Homo sapiens: one gene and its partner. The protein of the gene in region 1 purifies or fractionates together with the protein of each later gene. This does not show direct contact. Each region holds a gene or a part of one and is shown in the gene's direction. Other genes may lie near its edges.

Region 1 (6,859 bases):
ATGGGGGAAGTGCTTTCACAGTCAAGGATGTGGCCTTCCTGTGAGCTATTTCACATACCTGCATTGTAAATTCATGAGAGCGAACAGTCTTTGTGCAGCACAAATTAATGCAACAGTTTAACACAAACAATTCAAATAGAAGACTGTCCTTCAAGGAAAGAAAAGTGAAGAAATGTGGTTAATATTTGTCTTCTAAACTTGAGGGAACTCTTATGCCGTTGCCTACCATATTTGTTCTAGGATTTCTTCCATCTCGCCCAATACTGAATATAGAGCATGAGCAGCCAGATCATATAAAAGTCATTACATGGCCGAGAAAAATGTGAAATTGGTCTCAGTGCCAAACATTTTGGTAGTAAAACATCTTAAGGAAATAATACAAAAATGTTTTAACAGCCAGGTGCAGTGACGTGCACCTGTGGTCCCAGCTCCTTGGGAGGTGGAAGCAGGAGGATTGTTTGAGCCCAGGAGTTCAAGTCCAGCCTGGGCAACATAGGGAGGCCATGTCTCTAAAAAATATTAAAAATGACATCTTTTAACAGCCTGATTGACCATTAGTAGTGGTGATGTATGTACAGTAAGGCTCATCTCACCTCAAACTCTTTGATGTGGAATTCTAGTTTGACAGCAGTTTGCATCTGTGTACATTTTCCTTAGCAGTGTAGGTTGCTTTTCTGAGTCTTGCAAATCATTTTTACTCAGAAAATTTACAAAGAGGAATCTGAGGTTTGGAAGAGAAAAGGGAAGGAAAGTGGCAAAATGGAAGTGAAGTTTTTAAGTGAATCCTGGGAGGAGGCAGAGGAAGCTAACACCCACAGAGAGAGCTGAGGGTGATAGCCTTGTATCTAGAGCAACGCCCAAACAGCAGTGCAAATCGATGATTACTGAGGGCATCCTTGAGGCATTAGTGGGACCGAAGAGGTGGATGTTACCCACTTCCAGCCTAAAATTAAAAGGACATTGAATATTTGGGTGACAGTTTAGATGTAGGAAAAAAAAAAAAAAAAAAAAAACGCCTCTTTGTGTGTGTATTCTGTACCAGGAAGCAGATAATAGAAATCCTGCATATCTCATTCAAATGCCAAGGAATGGTAATCCCTCAAGGCTTCTAGAGAACAAAGGGTGTTAAATGGGAGTTAATTTTGTCATACTCATGACCCTTATGACTAATTTAAAAGGTAAGATTGCCATAACAGCCTTTTTATTTGTGAGGGTCTCCCTTCATCCTGGTTCTCCCCATCATTTTCTCACAAGGAGCTTTTGTTCCTCATCTGTAAATGATCCTTATCCTACAGGAGGGGGTTGTGAAAACCTGGCTCAGGACAGATGGGGAAGAATTCGTATATTTTAGTACCCCTGAATTAAAGCATTATACTTAGGCCTAATTGTTATTGACTAAACAAGAAAATAAGATGTTAATCCCTAACAGATACTTCAGTTGTTAGAGACTTCATATTTTTGGAAAACTATTGAAAAGTTTAAGAAAATCCCACAAACTTTCAATTTGGAGTTCTCATTATCTCATTAAATGAATAGCACTGCATATAATTAAGCTCCCAAGCAGGTTTAAGATTTGGGAGATGTGCAAATACAGATCACCATGTGTTCATTCACTATTTGGTAGTCCCTCAGAATGGATTTCAGTGACTCTGTGTTTTAAGAACTCTTAAAATTCTCCTCCCGTTTTTTTGGCAGAGAGCCAATGAAACATTACGGTATTAGTTCATTTTCTTCTTGCTTGTCTTGCAGTAGTTTATAATGCACTGTGTTATTGAAGAACAAATGTATGAACATATCTTGGAAATAATATTTGTCAAGCATTAACTCAAAGATCTTTACTACCTTTACAGAAAAAAAAAATAGCTCTTTTCTTTTTCCTTTTGCAGGAGAAAAACCCTACAAATGTACATGGGAAGGGTGCACATGGAAGTTTGCTCGGTCTGATGAACTAACAAGACATTTCCGAAAACATACTGGAATCAAACCTTTCCAGTGCCCGGACTGTGACCGCAGCTTCTCCCGTTCTGACCATCTTGCCCTCCATAGGAAACGCCACATGCTAGTCTGATTGCCTCTGTGTCCTGCCTCAGCGTGACTCCCCACTCACCTGGCTCTCTCTCTGTCCTGCCTCCCATTATCTAACACATTTTTTACATGTACATTTTAATTTGATTCAGCTGGTCTGAATCTCTGAATTTATATCATCCAAAACTTCCATATGGTCAGTAGTAGATGTTCTCTAATCCTCCCTCTCCTTACCACGGGTCAGACCTAAAGAATGTGAACACTTTTTTTTTTTTTTCTGGGGATGCTAAGCAAACCCTTCTTACAGATACGTTTAATGTAATAAGAACAAGGGAACATGTAAACTAACATAACCAATTGTCAGTTCTCCATGTATTCCTCAAAAGAATGTCAGAGTAAATGTATTAGAAATACAGTATCCAGACTGCTAGTCCTTGCCAGAGACATTCTTACCTCTGCCCTGTGATAATATTTTATGCTTGACAGTGAAAACAAGTGTGGCCCCTTGCACCGGTTAGCTAGAAGTACAGCCAGATTTCAAGCTAGTGCAGTCACCTCTTCCGTCATTCTTCACAAATCTTGTCAACCTGGATCTTAGACTTCATCTGAATCGAGTTCTTTGCCCTCCTTTGTGCCTGCAGCTCATATGGAGGTCTTTGCCACCAATGGGAGATGAGCCCAAACTTTCGATCTAGGTGGGTGATGTGTAGCAGTTCAAGGGAAGGGTGCTGTGTTTTCATAGCATGGAGTCGGAGGAGAGGGCCATTTAGCAGGGGGAGCAGAAGAGGCAATTCCTCCTGGGCTAGGGGTTGTCAGTGAGGTTTCAACATTTTGTTAGCTGTGTGCAGCATTCCCAGAGCTTCAGTCTCTGTGCATACTCAGCTTTGTAGAACCATGCTGCAAAGCCATATACCGATGGGGTTATCCATGCAACTATCTCCATTCCTACAATGTCCTTAATATGAGATCATCAAACATTGATAGTAGGGACTCCATGGAATATTTGCCCAGTAATGGTAAGAAATCTTTCGGGTAAGAGTATGGATGGTTCTTCTTTTACCCAATCTGCTTATAGCTTTTTTTGTAAACAGGGAAATGTTGAGTGGTACTTGTATTCCCTTATCAAATTAATCACATAGCTTTTATACAGAAACTCTTCCTGTGTGAGCTGTTAAGGTGCCAAATTGGCTGTCATTTGTATTCATGACACATACCATAAAGCATCTGCTAATGCTTTAATGGATTGATTCAATTAAGACCTGAGTGACACTATTTGTAAATATAACTAGTTGTGAAGCACACATACCTTTATTTTGGGAATTTATGAGAAAATATAGAAAACCACAGATCAGGGATTCATATATGTAGCTCAAAAATTCCCAAAAGTTTACTGTTAGAGTTGGCAATTTCCTATCACTATTTCAGTGTCAGAACAAACTGAAAATAATGGCTCGTGTTTATGTTGAAGATAAATAGCACCATTATTGGGGGAAGTTATTCAAAAGCAGGCTTTTGAGCACCATAGTCTAAATGCCAATAAAAATAATTCATACATAGAAATGTCATTGGTCCTGAATTTGAAGAAAGTGAGCAACAGTAGTTAAATGTGGGTGCATATAACCAAATTCCCCTTCATCAAGAATGGAGGAGAAGAGAGAAGAATGAAATCCTGAAGATTCATCCCAGCCGCAACTCAGGATCCAACACAACTTTAACTGGGAGGAATACATTGTTTGATCATTTTTAAAACATCTGTGAATGAGTGATTCCGGAGGCCTGTGAATTGTGTGGGGAGCTTGCTTTGATGGCACTGTGTTAATAAAAGTTGTAGGGACTGTGCACCTAAGAGGCTAAGAGGTCCCACTCATCCGCCCTGTGAACCAGCTGTAAAGAAATGTAGTTAAGAAATGCAAAGAAATGTGTTATCTTGGCACTTGGGTTTGATTTTCCTTTTTTTAAAGCACTGCAAAACTTCTTTAGGATACTAAAACATCCTAATTGGGCTGTTTTTTTGTTTTGTTTTGTTTTTCAGCTAAAGGCAAAGATAATTTTTTTTTCAGCTGAAGTTTTTCTTTTTTGCAACTATGACATGAATTGAGTGATAAAATGGCTCTTTGAAAAGTAGATATTGTCTGTATTGTAAATGCTTAGTCATATTCATGGCAAAGTGTTCATTTCTTGAGATGGTTCTTTCACAACACACAAGAATCAAGATGGAACGCAAGGAAAATCTTTTTGTTTTGACCGAGGTAACCAGTTTATGTGTGTTCCAATCCATAGAGAAGTGGGGGAAAGGGCGAGAAAGGATCAGATTGATCTGGGATCAGCTTTGAGCCTGAGTTCAGTGAATAGCCTCATGGGCATCTCATGGAATTGATGCATTTGCTGTGGCATATTTAAATTTTGTTCAAAAGATTTGAAGCAAGACCTTGCAAAGACTCTTAACATTACTGTTCAGCTTGCTTAGATTGTGTTAACAGTTCATTTAACAAAGATCCGTTTTAACTCTGAACAAAAGCAACCCAGAGCGGCCATTCTCTATTCCCATGCTGGTCAATACGCTTTCATTACCAATTGGCCCTTACCAAACTTTTCTTATATATATATTTGTATTTTACTATGATAGTTGAGAAATTTAGCCTCTTAGTCATTTTTAGCTGTTATTGTGGAAGACCTCAAATACAAGATTAGATGCCCTTGAACATGTTTTAATGATGTGTGTCATGTTACTATCAATGGTGATTTCAATCGCAATATTTTAAATTGATGAGAATGATTTGTAAACATGAAGTTACTATTACGTAAATTCTGTTTGTTATAGAGTTTCTTCAGTTGTTACCCAAGTGTCATCCTAGAGAAGTCAGAAGAATCAGAATCCATCGTATTTTAGAGTTATGTGAATCTACATCATAAATGGGCATTAACATTCTAAATTGCTTGGTTTGGAGAATGTGTTAGCAGCATAGCTATATTCAACTAGGGAGATGCTAAATACACAGAAGTTTCAAGAGCCTTGGAACAGAATTACAGGGGAACTATATATGTATATGTATATTTTATTAAACACCCATCTGCACTATCAGTATTGCACTAATGTGGAATTTGAAAGACTATTTTGCTGATACTGTATATATGCGCATCATTCCTGATTAGATTGTTGTAAAGACAATCTGAAAGATCTAAGGTTTTAAAATAATTTGGTTTGAAAATATACAGTTGTCTTGAAGGAATTGCTGTCATACATGAAGTTGCTCCGAGCTGTCTTTATTCTCTTCTTGGTCAAGGTTAACAATTGCTAAATGATCGCAAATTCACCTAAACAATACATTTACAAAGCCATCTTTACATGCATTAAACGAGGGCTACAACAATATTGTTTTACAAATACTAGCACTTTTTTTTCTGTTATGTACTTAGTGTTAGAGGGTCAAAATAATCTTTCTGCTTAGCATCTCTTAAACCATACCTGCAAATATAGCAGGATTATTACATTTACAGTACTTTAATACTTGTATAAACTATGCAGAAATTTTTAATAAAGTGTAATATATTTTATAAGCTAATAAGACTGAATGGGTAAAGGTTTTTAGCATGCATTAGTATACTTGCAGATACTGAAACATTTTGGTAATCTTTCTTACTAAAGATGTGAATGTTTAATGTACCTTCTCTGTTTCTACTCTGTAGTCCAATGGGAATTCAGTAATGACATTTTGTCATGTCAAACTGTGAACATAAATTTGTACTGTACAGTCCTCATATACTATATACAGTATGCAATATATATTATATACTTGTTAATAAAACCATCAGAATATTAAATGTGATCATGTGATTACTTCATATGCAGTGATCACTAGAGCAAAACTTACAGAGCAATGTAAGAACCCTTGCTTAGAACATTACTTACTCTGATGGGCAGTTATTGTTGATGGAGGGACAGAAAAATAGATCTAACTGGAAGATGAACTACCGGAATTAACTCAGCCCTCAAGCTATGTCCCTGGTTTTCTGAAAACAGCCAACAGGAAGTCTCCTAGGCTGAAATCATAAAACTGCAGACAATCCAGCAAAAATCTACAAACTCACCTAGTTCATTCTTGAAATACTTCTTGTATTTGTTATTTATGAACCCCTGCCTGCTTCCAAAAAGAACTTGCAGCATTTTGTATTAAAAGACGCATGTGTATAATACTTTAAACTTTTAGAGTAAAATATCAAGACTCTCATGTTGGGGAGTGGGGAACGAGGAACAGAACAATAACGCATTAAAGTAAATAACTCTGGATAAAAGTAATTATTTTTCAAGCCTTTAGTAACCATGTTCATGGACACTGCATTCTCCAGCATCACATGAAGAAGAAGTAGTTTCCGATAGGGATTTAGAGTTGAGTTTTGTTTTGTTTTGTTTTTGTTTTTGTTTTTGTTTTTGTTTTTTGAGACAGTCTCGCTGTGTTGCCCAGCCTGGAGTGCAATGTTGTGATCTCACTGCAACCTCTGCCTCTTGGGTTCAAGCGATTCTCCTGCCTCAGCCTCTTGAGTAGGCGGGACTACAGGTGCACGCCACTGTGCCCAGCTAATTTTTGTAATTTTAGTAGAGATGGGTTTTCACCGTGTTGGCCAGGCTGGTCTCAAACTCCCGACCTCAAGTGATCCACCCGCCTTGGCCTCAGAAAGTGCTGGTATTACAGGCATGAGCCACTGCACCCAGCCAAGGATTTAGAGTTCTTTTGTTTAAGGCAAAATGTAATTACCTCTCCTCTTCCCTCTGCATCCCTGCAATGTAATTGAAACTGAGGCTAGCTTGTTAGATCTCAGCAGTTTCCTCCAGCCT
Region 2 (7,040 bases), on another chromosome or scaffold:
TTTACTCAAATGCCACCTTCTAAGTGAGGTCCTCTGTGACCTCCTCTCTACATTGTCCCATACACACATGCACACACATGACACTTCCTACTCCTCTTTAGTTTTCTCCTTGTCATTCCCTAACATACTCAAGAGTTTATCACTGTCTACCATATGATATAATTTACTTAGAAATGCTTGTTGTCCCCCACCAGAATAAAAGCTCCATGGGGGAGGACCATTGGTCTGTTTTGTTGATGGCCATTTCTCCAGTGCCATGACAGTGTCTAGCACAGAGAATATGCACAATAAGTGGGCGCTGGATGAAACAATAAAGGAATGAAAAAGTTGTTGAATAAATGAAATGACAAATGTCTGTACATTTTTATCCACACTGATGTTTTCTTTCTTTCTTTCTTTCTCCCTCTCTCCCAACCTAGATACTGGATAAACTACTAGATGGCGACTTAACAAGTGATCCTTCTTACTTCCAGAATGTTACAGGATGTAGTAATTACTATAACTTTTTGCGGTGCACGGTAATGACATTTTAAAAACCATAATAATGTTTGCTTAAAACTTTTGGCAAAACCGAACTTCCTTTGATTTGGGAAATATTATAGATGACTTTATACTAGACCAACATGTCCAAACTGTACCGCGTGATGTGGTCTACTAACCCATAGAATCTTTTCCTCATCAGTGTTGTATACGTTATAATCTGACCACTGAGAATGTGTGATATTTCAGATAACTCAAAACAACTTCTGATGAACATGATTTCCCCCAAGTAGAGCTTGTTATAGAGGCACTTTTGTGAAGGACACAGGCTGGGATTGGAGTTCTGGGTCTCAGGTCCCAGAGCTTCAAGTCTGTTTACGAGTCTCTTGAAAATGCCCACATTCTTTGTTCTGTACTTAAGACGCTTGGATAATCAAAACTGCCAAAGCCTTAATGAAAATATTTGCTTTGTCTTACTTTTAAGATGTTTAATGCATTTAGTATGGCCCTCACTTCAAGCCTTCTGGAATATTTCTCAAAGTATTCAAGTAGTTTGTTTCATAAAAGTAGGCCAAAGTTGATATCTTTTGTGTAGAATTAGTCAAACAGAAGGAGCCAAAGTAGGTGTTTGAATTTGTATAATCTTTGTCTAATGCTTATGACAATGCATTCTGTTTTTAAAATTGCCTGATTTATGAACTAGTTTGTAAATAAAGTATAACGTTAGTTTCAGTGGAATTCGCCAATGCTGCAGTTTTGGATTTAGATTCTACTAAGAGAAAAACATGTGGTAGACAAGACAGAAACAAAATTTGTGATGATACCTTTTTTTCTTTACAACAATATATTCACAGTTAGTAAAAATTGTTGATGAAGCACAAAGTTGTCAAACTCAAACTTTAACAGTTTTTTTAATCCTTGTGTAACTGTTTTTTTTTTAAAGCATTTACTCCTTTCTTTCAGTATAATGATTATTACAGAGACTTTATTGCAGTTTTTTTTTTAATAAGCTTCATGGACAACTTTTCTTCTGTCTTGTGTCCTTCATAAAGTATCATCTCTTTTCACATTTGACATATTTTCCCCTTTATTATAGTCAATCCAATTTTGTGTGTGTGTGCGGTTTTTTTTATTTTTTAATTTTATTATTATTATACTTTAAGTTTTAGGGTACATGTGCACAACGTGCAGGTTTGTTACATATGTATACACATGGACACAGGATGGGGAACATCACACACCGGGGACTGTTGTGGGGTGGGGGTAGGGGGGAGGGATAGCATTAGGAGATATACCTGATGCTAAATGACGAGTTAATAAGTGCAGCACACCAACATGGCACATGTATACATGTGTGTGGTTTTAATAAACAGCAGAACACAGAAAAGAAATTCTTAGCTTTAAATCCAGCACACCACCAACCTGGCCCTTGTGATCCATTTGACCTTCTTTCCAAAGAGCCACCAACAAGGAGTGAATTGATTTTGATAATCTCATCTCTTTTGTTTTCTCTCTCTTTGCCTCTAGTGGGGTTGCTAATGGGAGTCACAGATTGCAAAAGATTAGTTTCTGCAAAGGAAAATCCTGTATTTGCAAATTGGGTATTTTAAGAGTATTTTAAGGGTATTTCAGATTTCTAATTAGTAAAAAGATTCCACCTAAATTATCTCAAAACCTCCGAGTTAAAATTTCAAGAATGGCGACAAGTTAATAGTCCCGTCACGTTTCTCCATGTTGTATGTTATGAGAAATTCACAGCTTTTCCCAACATACTGTTCCTGCCACCAATCATGTTCCCTATGTCTTTCCAATGCCCCTTCTGCCAGGAACCTGAGGATCAGCTTTACTATGTGAAATTTTTGTCACTCCCAGAGGTGAGACAAGCCATCCACGTGGGGAATCAGACTTTTAATGATGGAACTATAGTTGAAAAGTACTTGCGAGAAGATACAGTACAGTCAGTTAAGCCATGGTTAACTGAAATCATGAATAATTATAAGGTAAGAGAGCTACTTCAGTTACTATTTTAGGAACTTTCAGATTACCCAGAGCAGAAGTGATTTGTAATTTGAGTCCTGCCTTTTTTTTTTTTTTAACTTTTATGATGTGTCATTAGCATAAATAACAGCCCCTTTCTTTGTTTGATTCCAATTCAAAGTTTTATATTGTTCCTTTTAATTTAACCACTTTTGCCGTTGTGGTGACTTATACCTGTAATCCCAGTGCTTTGGGAGCCTGAGGCGGGTGGATCACCTGAGGTCAAGATTTTGAGACCAGCCTGGCCAACATGGTGAAACCTTCTCTCTACTAAAAAATACAAAAACTAGCTGGACATGGTGGCGGGTGCCTGTAATCCCAGCTACTTGGGAGGTTGAGGCGTGAGAATCACTTGAACCCGGGAGGCAGAGGTTGCAGTGAGCCAAGATCGCAACATTGCACTCCAGCCTGGGCAACAGAGCAAAAACTCTGTCTCAAAAAAATAAAAATAAAATAAAATAATTTAACCACTTTCCCCTGATTATTCCTTAAAATGAAATTCCCTTTGGCACACACCACTTCTCATCCTTTCTTGAGAAAGGAAGAGTTGCAGAGCCAAAAAGATGACTGGCCGTGTGTAAGAGCCAGATTTCTCTTATGTGTTGCTTTGTTACATGAATCCCAATGACGTCAGGGATAAATGAAATCAACTGGTTATTCTGAAAATGCATTTTGCCTAATGGTTGTATTCATTCACTTTACCCAATCACAGTGTTTTGAGTCTCTCCTTAGGGTGTGAGGTTGAAATGATGAATGAGAAAGGGTCCCTGTTTGGAAGTAGGTCAAGTCAAGCCATTGTGCTGTCTGGTTGAAATGCTCTGCCTTTGCTGCCAGTGGAGGTGCCAGTGGAGAGTGAGGTCACAGAAAAGGAGCCCTGGAGGTTCAGGCAAAGAAGACATGGGCCCTGGAACTCCCACTGGGAAGGAGGACACCAAGAGCAAATGACATGGGGAAAGTCAGCCTGTGTATTATTTCTTTCCTGGTACTACGCTCTCAGCTCCTCCTCTGGTCCTCCAGTGCTGTTAGCCTTTGCCCAAGGGATCGTCTCTAGGGCAACTCCGAAGGATGCCTGTACTGATGACTGGGGAGACCACCACTGAGTGATCCACTTCCTCCCTATATCCTGTTTTGAATGAACAAAAAACAGGGCAGTCGGCAGCCCATAGGATTTTTGTATGAATTAGAATAAAGGCATCCTCTCCTCAAGATACTTTATTTCGATCTTTCAGAAATTGTCCTGATATACTGCCTTAGTTAAAACCAGACTCTTTACTGCCATTTGCTGGCATGCTGAATATTCATTTCTACAATGTGTATATTAGGAATGGTGTGTCTTAGGATTGTTCAGTGCACAATCTGCAATACTATCCAGGCAGTCCCTGGCCAATGCACCCTAACTAGACTGTGGTTTAGAATATGCCAGACCTAGGAGGCCCATTTCTGGGTCCTGCTTCTAGTACAGTGTTGGACACGTAACCATTGTTGAAAATAGTTTAAGACCAATTATATGCCAAGTCTACAAACCCATTATAAACCTGCAAAACTTGATGAAATACTTACTTTCTTGGAAAGAAAGAGTCTAACTAGGTCAGGCCAGCATTTCAGCCATCCTTGTGTTTGGTTTTCTTGGGGACATGTAGTGGCCCTTAGTGCTTGCTGCTTCAAGACTTCTCAGAGGACCTCCAGAAGGCACTGCTGTTTGTCCTCTCCTCTGAGCTCTCAGAACGCGTTGTCTTTACCCCCATAGGTGTACATGGCACACTCTAACGTGCAGACTCTCAGTCTGACACCCATACCACCACCAGCCTGGAGCAGATGTCAGGAATGAATGAATGATTAGTGCTGTATCAAAAATATATCTATAAACCTGTCCATAATCCATTAGGTGCTTATTATCCACAAATTTATTAAACCAAAAAGAGGTTAGCGTTCATGTCTTAAAGATGATGTTCTGTAATGTGATGTTAAGGAATGGAACGAGTGAATTTTTTTGAGAGGAGAGCAGATAAGTTTGATATGTGTTATTTGTGCCCTTGGGAGATATATTTTCTCACTGTACACACTTTTTTTTTTTTTTTTTGAGATAGAGTTTTGCTCTTGTTGCCCAGCTGTAGTGCAATGGTGCGACTGGCTCACTGCAACCTCCACCTCCTGGGTTCAAGCAATTCTCCTGCCTCAGCCTCTCAAGTAGCTGGGATTATAGGCATGTGCCACCATGCCCAGCTAATTTTGTATTTTTAATAGAGATGAGTTTTCTCCGTGTTGGTCAGATTGGTCTCAAACTTCTGACCTCAGGTGATCCGCCCACCTCGGCCTCCCAAAGTGCTAGGATTGCAGGCATGAACCACCGCACCTGGCCTCACTGTACAAATTTAACTAGAATATGATTCCTTTCTCAGCCATGTGAGGGTAAGGTGGGACAAACAGCTTACCTGATGACATAAACTCTCCTTATGTTTTGACTGATAAAGGAGAATATATTGATTAGAGGTGATCCTGCATTTTGATATTTAAACTTCTCTGTCCCTCTTGCCCATGTATCCTAAACTTACCACTATGAATTCCAATAAAATCAAAATCCAGTATTTTCTAAACTTTTCTTTTCTTTTTTGAGACAGAGTTTCACTCTGTTGCTCAGGCTGGAATGCAGTGGCACGATCTCGGCTCACTGCAACCTCCACATCCCGGGTTCAAGTGATTCTCCTGCCTCAGCCTCCTGAGTAGCTGAGATTACAGGCACATGCCACCATGCCTGGCTAATTTTTTTTCCGTATTTTTAGTAGAGACAGGGTTTCACCATGTTGCCCAGGCTGATTTCAAACTCCTGACCTCAGGTGATCCACCCGCCTCGGCCTCCCAAAGTGCTGGGATTACAGGTGTGAGCCACCGTGTCTGGCATAAACTTTTCAACTCTGAATCGGTTGCCAGAAAAAGAAAAGAGTTTAGTGGTATAGATAAACCATATTTCCATAAAGAAACAGAACAAAATATGCCACCAAAAAGTGGCTGCTGCTAAAACAGACAGCATGTTCACTCACGCAGCTGGCAAAGCGCTTGGGATAGTGATTATCTTTGGCTTGTCTGTTAATGATGTTGAACCTCAGTGTTCAGAACGGGAATCAGAACAACCTAGGTTGGCTTAAAACGTTAGTACCATTAAAGTCATATTTATGTAAGACTCGGTACTAATTTGTCATAGAAAATAGCATGCCTGTTTCTATTCATAGGAACTAGAGGTCTTTTTCCAGTACTGGGTTCATTTTGGCCAATGTGGAGCATCTCTGATGGTTGAAGGAAGACCTTCCTGGGTTTCTGGAATTACGTTTTCATGTAGTTTCTGTATAAAAATTAGCTTCTCTGTAAACTACGTTAGTTTCTATGTAAGCTACGTGAAAACATAATCCTTTTCTTACAGTGATATACAGGAGATGCATACTCAAAAGTCATTTTCCTTTCAGTAATTTCAGATGTTTGGGTGGTAAATTGAAATATCATATTGGCAGTTTCAAAAATAACTAGAAAGAGAAACAATCTGTTGGGCTATTTGAATTCTTTATGACTGAATGAAGTCAAAACATGATCAGGACTTTTAGGAGTTAGCTGGTTAATAGAGTATGGTGGTTATGAACATGTTCTTAAGTTGCATATCTTGAGTTTGAGCTCTGGTTACACCAGTCACTGGCTATGCTCCTTTGGGAGAGGAAACTTAAACTCTCTGCGCTTTGGCTTCCTTGTCTATAAAACAGGAATAAAAACAGTATTTATGTGTGAGTTTCTGTGAGGTTTAAATGAGATTATATATGTAAACACACTTAGAAGAGTGCCTGATGGTTAGAAGGTGCTTATTTATATATATATAAGCTATTACCAAAAATGTTCAACAAATTTTGTGAAAGTCTTTAAGATCTTGCTACATTCAAAAGTTATACAAGAAACCCTGGAAAACACAAAAATAAAAAAGAATGGACAGGCTTCCAGTTTCCATTCCAGTGTGTAAGAAGCTTAGAAGTCTCCACTCCATTGTAACAACAGTAAAAAGCCAAACAAACTGAAATATAATCAAGAACTCTTTTTAGATTTGTTGAAACTGAGGTCACAGGGCAAATTGCTGCCCTCCAAAATTAGAGAGAGAGATGAATATAGGGAGTCAAAACTTAACAGGAGCAAACCTGTAAGTAGAACCCTCCATGGAAACAAATGGTGAGGAAGGGAAACCTGAACAGTAATTGGTAAATTACTAGAGGCTCCATAGGGACAAGTCTGAGAGTTTAAAACACCATGGGTGGGGAGAGGACTCAGCCAAAGGTCACTTGTAAATGACCTTTATTATGTTGAGGGACTTTTCTTGTATACCCAGACTGTTGAGTGTTTTTATCAAGAAAGGATGTTGGATTTTGTTGAATACTTTTTGTGTCAATTGAGATGATCATGTGGTTTTGTCTTTCAGTCTGTGATGTGTCACTTTGATTAACGTACCTATGTTAAACCAGTCTTGCATGCTAAGGGTAAATCCCACTTGATCA

The links. The genes of interacting proteins can lie anywhere in the genome.
Region 2: the proteins of KLF3 (region 1) and CPVL purify together in Homo sapiens (affinity purification with mass spectrometry; 2 studies listed by BioGRID and IntAct, with this or other methods). This does not show direct contact.

The regions. Positions count from the first base shown.
Region 1 is NC_000004.12:38,695,196-38,702,054, forward strand, and holds the end of KLF3 (Krueppel-like factor 3), read left to right. Parts: intron 1-1,886; coding exon 1,887-2,068; 3' UTR 2,069-6,322; downstream 6,323-6,859. UniProt on the Homo sapiens protein: Binds to the CACCC box of erythroid cell-expressed genes. May play a role in hematopoiesis.
Region 2 is NC_000007.14:29,059,501-29,066,540, reverse strand, and holds part of CPVL (probable serine carboxypeptidase CPVL isoform b precursor), read left to right. Parts: intron 1-419; coding exon 420-518; intron 519-2,306; coding exon 2,307-2,480; intron 2,481-7,040. UniProt on the Homo sapiens protein: May be involved in the digestion of phagocytosed particles in the lysosome, participation in an inflammatory protease cascade, and trimming of peptides for antigen presentation.